Linked DNA regions of Homo sapiens. The protein of the gene in region 1 interacts with the protein of each later gene in a pairwise test. Each region holds a gene or a part of one and is shown in the gene's direction. Other genes may lie near its edges.

Region 1 (5,096 bases):
GAAGAGAAGAAAGACGCAGCTGAGTGAGTAAACCTGGAACTTAGACCATCCTGTTACTCAATTAACTTTTTTTTTTTTAAAGGCATTTAGGTCCTTCCAACTGTGAAGAATCCATCTGGACTTTTAGACTACTTTATACATTGCCCTTAGTTTACAAACAGCTAGTCCAAACAAATGACATCTTAAGTAAATGAGGTTATTGCACCCTGTGCTACTCTTCTGTTCTTCCCCTTTTTTGTACCCCAGGGCTAGAAAAACAAGGCATAAATTAAGAAAAGTTTTTCTGTAAATGAACAGGAGTTGAAAAATTATCAATTCAGGGGACCTATCTTTACTGGATTCCACTCATTAGTCACCCTCACTGTGCTGCTAGGTTGAAAAACTGCCACTGTCAAGGAGAGAAGCATGCGGTGCTTCTACTTGGAATTCAAAATATTTTTCATCAGAAACTGTGTTTTAGTTAATGTTTAGATTTGTTAAGATAGACTTAATTCTGCACATTCAGTATATTAATTAAATGGACTTTTAGGGGCTAACCTCAGAACTTAACTACCATTGACTTAGGTGTTTGGGTACCAAACAATCCAGTTAAAGCTGAAGTTTTGGAATGCAGCTTATTGATAAATTGGGGACTGCTTATTCTTGATTTGAGGCAATTTTTTTTTACAGCCATGACTTTTTCCAGGTATGTCATGTAAAATATCTTCTCACATAAGAATTACTGCATGCTAGAATATTGGTATGTTGACTGGTAGCTCATACCTATAATCCCAGCACTCTGGGAGGTCCAAGCAGGTAGATTACTTGAGGTTAGGAGTTGAAGACCAGCCTGGCCAACATGTGAAACCCTGTCTGTACTAAAAATACAAAAATTAGCCAGGCATGGTGGTAGGTGCCTGTATCCCAGCTACTCGGGAGGCTGAGGCAGGAGAATTGCTTGAACCCAGAAGGTGGAGGCTGCAGTGAGCCGAGATCATGCCACTGCACTCCAGCCTGGGTGACAGAGCGAGACTCTGTCTCAAAAATAAATAAATAAATAAATAAAAGGATACTGTTATGTTAAGAATTGCTTTTAAGGATATTTCATAAGTAGCTACTGTCTTTTCAGCTCAAGTGTTTGTTGATTGGCCAGGCGTGGTAGCTCATACCTGTAATCCCAGCACTTTGGGAGGCTGAGTCAGGCAGATCACTTAAGGTCAGCGTGGCCAAAATGGTGAAACCCCATCTTTACTAAAAATAAATATTAAAAAAAATTAGCTGGGCGTGGTGGCAGTCTCCTGTAATCCCAGCTAATCAGGAGGCTAAGGCAAGAGAATGGCTTAAACTCGGGAGGCAGAGGTTGCAGTGAGCCAAGATTGCACTGCTGCACTCCAACCTGAGCAACAGAGTGGGACTCTGTGAAGGAAAAAAAAAAAGTATTTTTTGATTGCCTTTGAGAGGAACGGTTGTATATTACTCAGATTTTTAAAAAATTGTTCTTTTATGGCTGTATTCTTTAAGGGATTAAGGAATGGGCAATATAAGTGTATATGTTTCAATAAAAACGATTAGTGATCTTCTAGTGAGAACAGTTTAAATCTATATTTAGCAATTTTTTTTAAATTGTCAGGTATGGAAGATTTTAGAGCAACGTAAAGTCCATGTAGATTTCACTGGCCTTTATATTTTTTTTAGGCAAGTTAGGAAATCAACATTGAATCCCAATGCAAAGGAGTTCAACCCACGTTCCTTCTCTCAGGTAGGTTTATTACTTTCTTTGAGGTTATCTAGTCCCAAAAAAAGAAAAATTATTAGTAATAGTCCTTCTTCCATACCTGCCATCTGAATTTTGTTTTAGTGTGCTGAACCAACCTTCTTTCTTTTTTTTACATGGCCATTAATGAATACTTTTTAAACATTAAAAAAAGGTCTTTGTTTTGTCATCAATTAGATGTGATCTTGGGCAAATCTTTGAATTTCTCTGACCCAGAATTTGACGATGGTTGGCTAGCTAGGCTGTCAGGTTTATAGATACGTCCTCTGCACCTGAGGGTTTTGCATCACTGGATTCAACCAACCATGGATCAAAAACATAGTTAGGATAATCTATACTGAACACATGCAGACGTTTCCTTGTCATTATTCCAAAACAATACAGTAAAGCATTTACCTTGTTTTAGGTATTATAAATAATCTAGAGATGATGTAAAGTATATAGGAGGATATGCATAGGTTGTATGCGAATACTACATGATTTTATGTAAGGGACTTGAGCATTCCAAGACTTTGGTATCTTCACAGGGTACTGTAACCAATCCCCCACAGATACTAAGAGATGACTGTACTATTGTTATTATTCGACTGAGATCATAAGAAGATATATTTATTTTTAATTTTTAAAAACACTTCCATCAGTTTCTTAAAAATAGCTGCCACTGTTTTTAATATTTTTTAATTGACAAAGTTTTAAGTTCCTACTGAAACATTTTTTCTTTTATTGAAATGTGAAAATTTATGTGCTGTGTTTTTGTTTTCAATAAAAGGGACATAGTTAAAGCAAGTAAAATTAGAAAGACTGGGAAAATCCGTCTTTAAATTGCAATAATAGTTCATCTGTTACCTTGAGATAATTGAATTTATTGTTGTTTTTGTAGCCAAAGCCTTCTACTACCCCAACTTCACCTCGGCCTCAAGCACAACCTAGCCCATCTATGGTGGGTCATCAACAGCCAACTCCAGTTTATACTCAGCCTGTTTGTTTTGCACCAAATATGATGTATCCAGTCCCAGTGAGCCCAGGCGTGCAAGTAAGTCATAGAATTTGATGTTCACTTAGCCTCCCCAATTGTTTGTATCTGACACCAAGCACTCTTTAGGTTTTCAGTGACTTGAGGGTGTGATGGTTATGCATATGCATTTGAAACAGACAGGCATGCAGAGATTCAGTGTGTTGTTAAGTATGAGGACCTAAATCTGAGAATGTTTTCTGTGAAAAAGATGGTTTAGATTTACTGTAGTTTGGGGTTTGTTCCTTTTAGCTGTGGGTATGATCTAATTTTTTAATGACTAATGGAGAATCAGGAAACCTTCTCATGCCTAGCTCTCTAGCAATATAAAACTAAGAGTGACAGAATACCTTGTTATTATCATAGGTGCCTAATGTTAATTTTTTTTTTAATTCTCTCAAGCCTTTATACCCAATACCTATGACGCCCATGCCAGTGAATCAAGCCAAGACATATAGAGCAGGTAAAGGTGAGAATAATCCTGCCTGTGTTTGCTTGTAGTTTGCATGCTGCATGAATTGAGTAACTAAGTTTATAATGAATAAATAGTTGTAGTTTAGCTCTGACTTTTTGATGAGGCTATGCATTGGCTTTTGATGAACAACATTACATAGATATTCACATGGATTTTATGAAGAAAAACAGGGGAGAAAAAATGCCCATCAGTTGTGATTATATAGTATCCTCTTCAAAAAGAGTAATTGGAGGCCTGGTGTGATGGCTCACACCTGTAATTTTAGCACTTTGGGAGGCCAAGGCAGGAGGATTGCTTGAGCTCAGGAGCCCAAGATCAGCCTGGACAACAGAGACTTTGTCTCTACTAAAATTCAAAAAAATTAGCTGGGCATGGTGGCATATGCCTGTAGCCCCAGCTGTTTGGGGGACTGAGGCGAGAGGATCACTTGAGCCCAGGAAGTAGAGGCTGCAGTGAGCTGTGATTATGCCACTGCCCTCCAGCCTGGGCGACAGAGTGAGACCCCGTCTCAAACATAAATACTGGCTGGGCATGGTGGCTTATGCCTGTAATCCCAGCACTTTGGGAGGCCGAGGTGGGTGTATCACCTGAGGTCAGTAGTTTGAGACCAGCCTGGCCAACATGGCGAAACCCCATCTCTACTAAAATACAAAAATTAGCCGGACATGGTGGCACCTGCCGCCTGTAATCCCAGCTACTAGGTGGGGCTGAGGCAGGAGAATTGCTTGAACCCGGGAGGCAGGGGTTGCAGTGAGCCAAGATCGTGCCACTGCACTTCAGCCTGGGCAACAGAGTGAGACTCCATCTCAAAACAAACAAACAAACAAAAAACAAACAAACAAAAAAACCAGACTAATTGGCTGGACACAGTGGCTCCATGCCTGATATCCCAGCTGGAGGATGACTTGAACCCATGAGTTCGAGAGCAGCATGGGCAATATAGTGAGACCCTATCTCAAAAAAAAAAAAAAAAGTTAATTCCAAAGCTTTTTGATCTGAAATCTGATTTAAATCTGAACTTAAATTTGAAGAAGAGGGTTTGCTAGATTAATTTACTAGATTGCTAACCTTGCTTTATATATACCTACAGTTATTTCCCCAAAGCCAGAATTTCTTTTGAAGCAGAGGGGCAACTAACTTCAACCAATGTTAAGATCCTATTAGAAGGATGTTTCGGCTAGGCTTGGTGGCTCACGTGTAATTCCAGCACTTTGAGAGGCTGAGGTGGGCAGATCACATGACCGGGAGTTTTAAGACCAGCCTGGGCAACATGGCAAAAACCTATCTCTGCAAAAAAAAAATAGAAATCTTAGCCAGCCGTCATGGTGTGCTCCTGTAGTCCTAGCTACTTGGGAGACTGAGGTGGGAGGATCAATTGAAACCAGAAGGTCCAGGCTGCAGGGAACTGTGACTGCACCACTGGGCTCCAGCTTGGGTGAAAGAGCGAAACCCTGCCTCAAAAAGAAAAATAAGATGGATGTTTCTGCATTAAAATTAGGGAGTTGTCGTATAATGTAGTTGCATAAACTAGTATTCTGTGCTTGTGTGGTTAAAGAGCCTTCGTAGAAAAAATCCCACATTTTTCTTAAAAGGAAATCTTTTGGCCAGGTGTGGTGGCTCACATCTGTAAGCCCAACACTCTGGGAAGCCGAGGTGGGCAGATCACTTGAGGTCAGGAGTACAAAACCATCCTGGCCAACATGGTGAAAACCCGTCTCTACTAAAAATACAAAGATCAGCTGGGCATGGTGGTGCGTGCCTGGGTGACAGAGCGAGACTCCGTCCAAAAAAAAAAAAAAAAAAAAAGAGTTCTTTTAATGTTGGAAAATGCTAAAGGGTTTTTTTTTTGCCAACCA
Region 2 (3,500 bases), on another chromosome or scaffold:
GTGCCCGCCACCATTCCCAGCTAATTTTTGTATTTTTATAGAGACCGGGTTTCACCATGTTGCCAGGCTGGTCTCAAACTCCTGACCTCAAGTGATCCGCCCACCTCAGCCTCCCAAAGTGCTGGGATTACAGGCATAAGCCACCATGCCCAGCCTCGTACCTTGGCATTTTAACTTTCTTCCTGAAGTACTAACAAGAGCAGAGTGCCACAAAACCAAATAGAGATATTAGTCTACCCTTTCTTGCTTTTAGGCTCACAGTCTTATATGTGAAATTGTTAATTTAAAATGTAAGGTCTGAGGCCAGGCACAGTGGCTCACGCCTTTAATCCCAGCACTTTGGGAGGCTGAGGTGGGTGGATTGCCTGACTTAGAGGTTCAAAGATCAGCCTGGGCCACATAGTGATACGCTGTCTCTACAAAAACTAAAAAAAAATTAGCTGGGTGTGGTGGCGTGTGCTTGTGGTCCCAGCTACTTCGGGGGCTGAGGTGGGAGGATGGCTTGAGTCCGGGAGGGCAGTCCAGGAGGTCAAAGCAGCAGTGAGCGAGGATCCTGCCACTGCACGCCAGCCTAGGTAACCAAATAAGACCCTGTCTCAAAAATAAGTAAAATAAAATGTAAAAGCTGAACACGGTGACTTACACTTATAATCCCAGCACTTTGGGAGGCCGAGGTGGGAAGATTGCTTGATGCCAGGAGTTCAAGACCAACATGAGCAACAAAGCAAGAACCCGTCTTTACAAAAAAAAAAAAAAAAAAAGTTACTAAGCATCAATAGTATTTCATTAAAAATAGTATTTGTATGGAAACATAACACATATAGTGAAATTCCTTGTGTTTAGTTGTACCTCTGTTTCAGTTAAGAGACTGATTTGACTGTATTAATATTACGTATGATGTGTGAAAGCCATAACAGTGAAGTATGTACATAAAATAATATATTGATTAATTCCCCTCATCTAGACAGGGGTAAGCATGGTAAGCAGCCCTCGGAATTGTTGAAGAGTTCTCTGAAGAATTACTTATCTATTGTGTTTGCCTTGGGCCTTGCTTCCTGTCTTAGTTGTTTTTACTTTATGTGAATCCTGGGAGCCCACGTTGTGATGCTTTTAGTGTTTACATCCAGAATGTAAAATCATATTTTTATGAAAGACGTTGTTCCTTTTTGAGTTTAATGAATTCAGTTAAAAGCAAGAGTGTGTTTCTAGATGGGACTATCCTCATAGAAGTAGAATGAGGCAGAGGTTAGGTAGTTCTGTTTTGGAAGACGTAAGAGGGGGTTGTAAGTGATTTATAAATATTACTTAATCCTCATGAGATAGATACTGTTATTACCCTTATTTTATAGATGACTAAACAGAAGCACAAGAGATCAAGTGACTTGCCCAAGGCAATAAATAATGGAATCTGGTTTTAATGTCCCTGTATTGAAAGGGGGTAATACACTTTTGTTATTTCCTTGAGAAAAAAATATTAGAATAAATATTAAAATCTCTCATTTGATTTTTATTAGTGGTCAGTTTAGAATACTACTACTGTAGAAATATATACATTTTTCCTATTTGTTTTGCTTATGCATGTTTTTAAAAGAGCCCTTTTACCAGACAAAATTGCCATTTGAAATACTTAAAGAGGGGTCGGGCACGGTGGCTTACACCTGTAATCCCAGCACTTTGCGGGGGCCGAGGCAGGCGGATCATGAGATCAAGAGATTGAGACCATCCTGGCCAACATGGAGAAACCCCGTCTCTACTAAAAATACAAAAATTAGCTGGGGGTGGTGGCACGTGTCTGTAATCCTAGCTACCCAGGAGGTTAAGGCAGGTGAATCGCTTGAACCCGGGAGGCGGAGGTTGCAGTGAGCCGAGATCGCACCACTGCACTCCAGCCTGGCAAAAGAGCGAGACTCCATCTCCAAAAAAAAAAAAAAAAAAAAAAACTTAAAGAGGCTGGGCACCTTAGCTCATGCCTGTAGTTTCAGCACTTTGGGAGGCTGAGGCAGGAGGATCACTGGAGGCTAGGAGTTCAAGACCAGCCTGGGCAACAGAGCAAGACCCCCATCTCTAAATAAATAAATAAGAATTAAAAAAAGAAAAAATACTTCAAGAATTATATATGTCTAAAAGCAGATTGGTGGATTTTTTGCATATTTGCAGTTTAACTGCAACAACAGTAAAATTTTGTCAAATGTGAACTTTTGACATTTGGTTAAAACAAATAAAAGGGTATCTTTTATTTGTTTGACTCAGATTTTATGGTTAAGAAAATTACTTGTTGAGGCGGGTGCAGTGGCTCACGCCTATAATCCTAGCACTTTGGGAGGCCAAGGCAGGTGGATTGCTTGAGCCCAGGAGTTTTAAGACCAGTCTGGGCAACATAGCGAAACCCTGTCTCTACAAAAAATATAAAAATTAGCCAGGACTGGTGGTGCACACCTGTGGTTCCAGCTACTCAGGAGGCTGAGGTAGGAGGATTGCTTGAGGTGGGAGGATCGGGAGACGGAGGTTACAGTAAGCCGAGATTGTGCCACTCCACTCCAGCCTGGGTGACAGAGACCCTGTCTCAATAAATAAATAAAAATTTAAAAAACAGAAAATTACTTCTTGAGTAACATAAAAATGAACTAGGAAAAAATGAAATGTATTTGGCTTGTAGAAGTTGATTTCTCCAGGTCCTCCAGAAGAGGGCACTTGGTGTTTACAGTTTAAAACTTTAAAGAGCTTTTGTTTTTCTTAATTGTAGGTTGGGAGTCCTCCTCTTGATCCTACTGAGCGTTTTCTTCCTGAAGAAGAGAAACTTACTGAACAAGAGAGATCAAAAAGGTGAGTAGGTATAGAAATCAGCCCTTGCAAATATTTCCACATATCATAGATTAGTGATTGTTCAAAAAGTCACTTATAAAGGTTATAGAATGTGGATTCTGACAGGAGTAAAACCTCCATTTACCACTTACTTGTTATTTGACCTTGTTCAAACCTGAGACTCAGTTTCCTTATCTGTCAAATAGATACAATAAACAAATCCAACTCAAAGGGTTGGTGGGATAATCAAAATAAATATATATGAAATTTACTTATAAAACGTAAACCATGGTCCGGACACGGTGGCTTACACCTGTAATCCCAGCACTTTGGGAGGCTGAGGCGGGTGGATCACAAGGTCAGGAGTTCAAGACTGGCCTGACTATTATGGTGAAACCCCGTCTCTACCAAAAATACAAAAATTAGCCAGGCATGGTGGCAGGCGCCTGTAATCCCAGCTACTCGGGAGGCTGAGGCAGGAGAATTGCTTGAACCCAGGAGGCGGAGGCAGTGAGCCAAGATCGTGCCACTGTACTCCAGCCTGGGCAACAGAGCGAGACTCTGTCTCAGGAAAAAAAAAAAACAAGTAAACCATTACACAAATATTGGTTTATTTTTTCTTTACAGATTTGAAAAGGTTTATACTCATAACCTATATTACCTAGCTCAAGTCTACCAGCATCTGGAAATGTTTGAGA
Region 3 (3,500 bases), on another chromosome or scaffold:
GAGCAGAAATAAGGAAGATAGAAGGGACATTTCAGGGGCAGTGGTCTAAAATGGTTCTCCCAAGGGTGGAAGGAGTGGAAGGCTTTCGCAGAGGGCAACCTGTAGAACAAGCCTCTGATTAGACTCTAAGACAGGGCTGGACCTGTCCTTTCAAACCTGAATCACAGTGTTCTGTTAGGTTTTAGTAACAGGACACCCATTAGTAAAATGCATTTATCCGACATTTTTTCCCCATAAATTAATGGTTGCTGTCCACTCCTAATGTAGCTGAGAAAAGTAGACCACAGAGGGGAGGTGGCAGTGGAGCAGATGCTCTTTCCAAAATGAAGGGAAGGAGAATACCATGGAAACTCTATTCTTAAGGCAAAGGGTAAGGCCTTCTTACTGAAACTCTGGCAGGGGAATATAAAGTAGTCTGGCCAGGGAGGAGTCAGATATATTGAACAGTCTAATTTGAGTCGTTTACACTGGTCACACCCAGATGGATATTTTCCCTGGATGTGTGCTAACCACCTGACATTATATCTATATGTAATGCGTATGTAGCTGATAGCCAAGGCCCACTTAGGCATACGGATATACAAAGATGCAAAGCCCAGTTTCACTCAGAAGAGCTCTAGATGAACTGATGGGAGGGATTGGGTTTTGAAGGGAAGAAGAGCACATAGATGGGGAAGGTGGAGATCAGAAATGGATAGTCAGGGTGGATTGGCACTGAGGAGTAAGCAAGTGATGCTTTAGTATGTCCTCTTGCAAATTAAAACTTGGCCAGTCTCCACTGTTGCTTTTACTACTTGTGGAAATAACTGTATAGTAGTTCAGTGATCTTTGACTCATGAGTCATGAACCATTGTTAAACTATTTTCCGTGTCATCAGTTTACTATTCAGGACCCAAAATTCATACTTCAGCATTGACATCTGGCAACCGTGAAGTATAGGTCCCAAAGCTGTCCTCTTTCCTGCTCCCTGGCATTCATTCAGAGTGTGGACTTCAGAGGTAGTGGAGGTGTGCAGACTCTGCAGTTCTCTGTCTCTGCCATGAATTTCTATTGAGTATCTCCAGCTGTTCCATTGTCTTGGAATCCACACCAGCCCTGTGACTAAGTGGAGTCAGCTGTGGATTTCACACCACTGTTTTTTTCTTTTTTACTCTGCTTACCCTTTCTTTCCTGTCTTGTCTCCTGTTCTTAATTCTTCAGGGTTTGCTGGGTGTTTTTCCCAGTACCAGTAGACAGGGTGATATAATGGGAAAAGTGTGGCCTTTGGCATCAAACAGACCTGGATTGAAATCCTAGCTTATCTACATCCCGCGATATCTTAAGTATTTAACTTATCTGAACCTTGGTTTTCACATCTATAAGTTGAGGATAATAGCCTCCCAGCATTATTATAGATACTAGATTTTTAGAAAAGCCATTTCTCAGAATTTACATAAGAGAAATAAAAACATGTGCCTACCTAAATACTTGTACATGAATGATCAAGGCAACTTTATTTATAATATCTCAAAATTGGATGCAACCCAAATGTGTATCAACATTTGAATTGATAAACAAATTGTAGTATACCCATACAGTGGAATACTACTCATCAATAAAAAGGAATGAACTGAGTTAAATGCAGTAACATAGATGGAACACAAAGCACTAGGCAAAAATAATCCATAGTGACAGAAAGCAGATTGGTAGTTGCCAGGAGCCAGGGCAGTGTGTGTATGAACCAGAGAGGGCTGACCACAGAGAAGCATAGCTTAAAAGAACTTTTTTTTGGGGGGGGCGGGTGGGGGAGGGTGTGGTGGTTAAAGATATGCTGTACATGCAGTAAAAATCCCTCTTTATAGCCAATCACCTCCCCTTACCCCCAGCCCTTGGCAACCACTGATCTAATTTCTGTGTCTGTAGTTTCGCCTTTTCCAGAATGTTCACATAAATAGAATCATGTATGTAGCCTTTTGTGTCCAGCTTTTTCCTTTAGCATAATATAAGAGTCATGCATGTTTTATGTATCAACAGATTGTTCCTTTCTATTACTGAATAGTATTCCACTGTATGGCGCTACTAGTTTGGTTTATCTACTTACCTTTTGATAGACATTTTGATTGTTTCCAGTTTGGGGGGCAATTATAAATAATGCTGTTATATACACACACACGTTTCTGTGTGGACATATGTCATCATTTCTCTTGGGCAATAATGTAGGAGAGGACTGCTGGGTTATATAAGTGTATACTTTACTTTGTAAGAAATTGTCAAACTGGCCGGGGCAGTGGCTTATGTCTGTAATCCCAGCATTTTGGAAGGCCAGGGCGGGTGGATCACCTGAGGTCAGGAGTTCAAGGCCAGCCTGACCAATATGGTGAAACCCCATATCTACCAAAAATACAAAAAAATTAGCTGGGCGAGGTGGTGTGTGCCTGTAGTCCCAGCAACTCGGGAGGCTGAGACAGGAGAATTGCTTGAACCTGGGTGGCAGAGGTTGCAGTGAGCCGAGATCGGGCTACTGCACTCCAGCCTGGGCCACAGAGCTGGACTCTGTCTCAAAAAAAAAAAAAAAAAGAAATTGTCAAACTATTTTTCAAGGTACTATTTTGCATGCCCACCAGAAATGTATGAGAGTTCTAAATGCTCTGCTTTCTCATCAGCACTTCGTATTGTCAGTTTTTTAAAAAATTAAGCTGCTCTAATAGATGTGTAGTGATACTTCATTGTGAATTTAATTTGCATTTCCCTAATGACTAATGCTGTTGAGCATCTTTTCATGTGTTTTTTTGCCATCTTCATTTTTACTTTAGTGACATATGTATTCAGGTGTTTTGCACATTTTAAATTGGGATCTTTGTTTTATTATTGAGTTTTGAGTATTGTTTATATATGACTACCAACTTTACCACGTCTGTTATGAAAATATCTTCTCACAATCTGTGGCTTTTCATTTTTGAACAGCTTTTGGAAGAGCAGACATTTTAAATTTTGATGAGATCCAATTTGTCAATTTCTTCTTTTTTTCTTTTTGAGACAGGTTCTCACTCTGTCGCACCATGACGGCTCACTGCAGCCTCTCAGGTAGCTGGGACTACAGGCACGTGCGACTATGCCCAGCTTTTGTGTGTGTGTGTGTGTGTGTGTGTGTGTGTGTGTGTGTGTGTGTGAAGACGGAGTCTCACTATGTTGCCCAGGCGAGTCTCGAACTCCTGAGCTCAGGTGACCCATGTGCCTTGGTCTCCCAAAGTGCTGAAATTACAGACGTGAACCACCGTGCCCAGCCAATTTTTTCTTCTATGGTTCTCAAAAGTCTTTGCCTAACCCAAGGCCACAAAGATTTACTCCTGTGTATTTTTTAGAAGTTTTATACTATTAGCCTTTTCATTTAGGACCTAAATTATTTATTTTGAGTTAATTTTTTGTATATATAATATGAAGTTCATTATTTGCATATGAATGACCAGTTTTACTAGCACTGTTCATTGAACTTTCTTCATTGAATTTCCTTAGCATCTTTG
Region 4 (3,500 bases), on another chromosome or scaffold:
TTATTTTGAAAGTAATCAAAGATCCTTCTGTACCTTTTAGTCTTCATCTCTAAATCTACAAAGAGGAACACATGCCTCATATGACTATATGTGTGTTATAAATAGAAAATGATATTCTAATGTTCTTTTAACTTTTCAGGACACTGTATGCTCTTTGATTCAGGACAATTAGTGTATTTTTCCAGAAATAGCTATTCACATGTAAAGTGTCACTAAAGTAGATTATAGAGTTTTATGGCAGGAACAGTGGTAGAGGGAAGGGAGGAGACAATATTTATTAAGAGTATCTTATGTGCTAGGTTTGGTGTTGGAAAGTAATCTAAGTAGTTAGTAATGGGAGTTGGCTGGAATGATCATTTGAGGGATGATTCAAAGGTGGTTTTTGGTTGTAATTATGGTGCTATTTATATATATTTTTTTCTTTTAAAGGAGCAGTGAGGAGAATGAATACCTTCCAAGACCAGAGTGGCAGCTCCAGTAATAGAGAACCCCTTTTGAGGTGTAGTGATGCACGGAGGGACTTGGAGCTTGCTATTGGTGGAGTTCTCCGGGCTGAACAGCAAATTAAAGATAACTTGCGAGAGGTGTGACATGTGCTTTTCTCTTCTGTTGTCTGGACTCTTGACACAGGGCTGATTTGAGCATGGCCAAGGACTTGGTCTCTCCGTGCCAGCAAAAAATTTCACCCCATGCCTTGCGTGGTCTACTTGGTCCCCGTCAGTTGCCTGATATACTGGTGCCTTTCATCCCAAGGGGAAATAAGGCAGATGCTAGAAGAGTCTGGAAAACCCTGTGCCATTCTAGAAAATTCTATTCAGCTTACTTAGATTACTAACTACTTAGATTTTTGATTACTCCTCTGTGTGATTCCTCAGGCACTGTGACCAGTAAAAATATGAAATGAGTGAGCAGTATCCTCTCAGCTGCATCCTCTTGATTGCATGAAGGATGCACTTGAGCATCCTCCCCATCATCTTTTAGCTGGTTAATGGCATTGTTCTGTAAATGACTATCTGTTAGGGCAAGCCAGAGTGAAATCTGTTGTTGGTTCCAGTAGTATTTTGTTGTTGTGTGTGTTAGACCAAGTATTACATGACTTTGAAACACAACTTTATTAAACAGAAAAAAATGTGTTTTAAAATACAGTTTCTTATGTATATTGTCACGGATAATTTATGGCCTGTTTTGACTTTTTCCCTTGGGATTTTTATATTTAGCCCTGTTTGAATCACTGTTTATGCTTCCAGAAATATTAGTTTATAATTTTACTTAAATTGTCTACCCTAATGGTCTTTTAGCTGTTGACATGTGGTGGCACATCTCTTTACTAAATTGGCCTCCTGTAAATGGACCGCTCATTCTGTGGGGTGAGAAAAGAGATAAGGGGCTAGCTATTAAGTTAATACTCTGTCTTTATTCTGCTGATAAACTTGTAAAACCGTAGGTTTTTAAATTATGTGGAAAACTGAGGGGGTCAGTATTTCCTGGTACATTCTTGTATTTTCTCTTGATTAGGACACCCAAATTAAACCTAATCCTCTTAGAAGGCTGGGTATTGAAGAAGGATTTTAGAGTTTAGGTATGCCTTTATGGCTAGGATTCTTAAATTGGGGTCCATAGGGCTTTAGTGGGTCCTTGGGTGGGCTTTGGAACACTAAACCCTGAAATTATAGGTAAAATCTTGAAAATATACATTTTTTCTGGGGAGATACTTCATAGATGTCATTGGATAATTAAAAGGATTTGTGGTCCCCCCAACCCCACCCCCCCAAAAAAAGTTTTAGAAACTCACTATTCTTTGGGAAACATCATTCTTTGGGATTAACACTAGGAAGCTAACATGTATGTGTTTCCTAGGTCAAAGCTCAGATTCACAGTTGCATAAGCCGTCACCTGGAATGTCTTAGAAGCCGTGAGGTATGGCTGTATGAACAGGTGGACCTTATTTATCAGCTTAAAGAGGAGACACTTCAACAGCAGGCTCAGCAGCTCTACTCGGTAAGGTGACTGCATGGCTAGAATTGGTTTGAGCATGGCTTCTGGTTGCCAGAGAGTATCTTCCTTGTAATGCAGTGTTAATATAGATCAGATAGAAGTTTAATCTCAAGTGCTGTTTGGTAACTTGAGTATATCTGGTGCTTTTGGTGTCATTGTGGCTAGTTGGTTTCATTTTTCTTTTAGTTATTGGGCCAGTTCAATTGTCTTACTCATCAACTGGAGTGTACCCAAAACAAAGATCTAGCCAATCAAGTCTCTGTGTGCCTGGAGAGGTAATGACCCTTTTTGCGTATTTTAACTTTTGACTCTTGAACTTTGGTATACTAAAAGAAAGTCGATTTTGTAACTCATTGCTTGTGTTATATTTAACTTCTGTGTTGCTAGGATAAGATCATTCTGCTTCATGTATTTAATATTATACTTGCTGATACATGAATAAGCCATCTATCTTTGGTTGAGTTTCTTAGAGAAGTGTAATCATTTAAAATTACTCACAATTTGGCTTTTGTTTTAGATGAAGTTGATGAAACAGATATTCCTTAAAAATAGCCAATTTTGTTTTTTTTTCCCCAGACTGGGCAGTTTGACCCTTAAGCCTGAAGATTCAACTGTCCTGCTCTTTGAAGCTGACACAATTACTCTGCGCCAGACCATCACCACATTTGGGTCTCTCAAAACCATTGTGAGTAATCTCATATGCTTCACTGGGCACTTCTCATATCTGTGGCCTCACAGCTGGTCTTAAAAAAAATTGCTATGAATAGTGACTTTCTTGAGAATTTGATTAGCTTCAAAAATTTCATGTTCTCAGCTGGGCGTGGTGGCTCACGCCTGTAATCCTAGCACTTTGGGAGGCCGAGGAGGGCGGATCACTTGAGGTCAGAAGTTCAAGACCAGCCTGGCCAACATGGTGAAAACCCATCTCTATTAAAAATACAAAAAAATTAGCTGGGCGCCTATAATCCCAGCTACTTGGAAGGCTGAGGCAGGAGGATCGCTTCAAGCTGGGAGGCGGAGGTTGCAGTGACCTGAGATCGTGCCACTGCATTCCAACCTGGGCGACAAACAGTGAGACTCCGCCTAAAAAAAAAAAAATTCATATTCTGATTAAGTTGCCTAGGTTGGTAGTTCTTGGAATGTAGTACAGACTCAGTGATACTCTTTGGAATGCCTCATGTATCTCTCTAAATACTTTTGAAATATTTTTTGTAAAATTTATGGCTTGAATAGTTTTTAATAAAGAACGAAACGTTTGGGTCTTGTTAAAAGTGGTAATACAACCAATTCTGGTAAAGATTTTTTATATAATAGTTATGTGGTAGAGTATTCTCAAATTTGATAACTACTTTGTAAGTCATGGAATTTAGTGTGAACAGTATTTCTAATGAAATGGTAATGCTTTAACATTTTTGAAATTTGGAATTATAATTTCACTTTTTTGGCAGCATAGCATAAATAACATGATTAAATTATCTCTATTTTGTAGCAAATTCCTGAGCACT

Evidence for each region. Proteins that work in one complex are often made in the same cells at the same time.
Region 2: the proteins of ATXN2 (region 1) and KIFBP interact in a two-hybrid assay, tested with the Homo sapiens proteins (one large-scale study listed by BioGRID and IntAct).
Region 3: the proteins of ATXN2 (region 1) and TDRD7 interact in a two-hybrid assay, tested with the Homo sapiens proteins (one large-scale study listed by BioGRID and IntAct).
Region 4: the proteins of ATXN2 (region 1) and NCOA4 interact in a two-hybrid assay, tested with the Homo sapiens proteins (one large-scale study listed by BioGRID and IntAct).

The regions. Positions count from the first base shown.
Region 1 is NC_000012.12:111,483,403-111,488,498, reverse strand, and holds part of ATXN2 (ataxin-2), read left to right. Parts: coding exon 1-23; intron 24-1,674; coding exon 1,675-1,738; intron 1,739-2,633; coding exon 2,634-2,786; intron 2,787-3,167; coding exon 3,168-3,234; intron 3,235-5,096. UniProt on the Homo sapiens protein: Involved in EGFR trafficking, acting as negative regulator of endocytic EGFR internalization at the plasma membrane.
Region 2 is NC_000010.11:69,002,303-69,005,802, forward strand, and holds part of KIFBP (KIF-binding protein), read left to right. Parts: intron 1-2,743; coding exon 2,744-2,823; intron 2,824-3,429; coding exon 3,430-3,500. UniProt on the Homo sapiens protein: Activator of KIF1B plus-end-directed microtubule motor activity. Required for organization of axonal microtubules, and axonal outgrowth and maintenance during peripheral and central nervous system development.
Region 3 is NC_000009.12:97,418,596-97,422,095, forward strand, and holds part of TDRD7 (tudor domain-containing protein 7), read left to right. Parts: intron 1-3,500. UniProt on the Homo sapiens protein: Component of specific cytoplasmic RNA granules involved in post-transcriptional regulation of specific genes: probably acts by binding to specific mRNAs and regulating their translation.
Region 4 is NC_000010.11:46,013,624-46,017,123, reverse strand, and holds part of NCOA4 (nuclear receptor coactivator 4), read left to right. Parts: intron 1-429; coding exon of another isoform or gene 430-443; coding exon 444-584; intron 585-1,857; coding exon 1,858-1,998; intron 1,999-2,181; coding exon 2,182-2,270; intron 2,271-2,571; coding exon 2,572-2,680; intron 2,681-3,484; coding exon 3,485-3,500. UniProt on the Homo sapiens protein: Cargo receptor for the autophagic turnover of the iron-binding ferritin complex, playing a central role in iron homeostasis. Acts as an adapter for delivery of ferritin to lysosomes and autophagic degradation of ferritin, a process named ferritinophagy.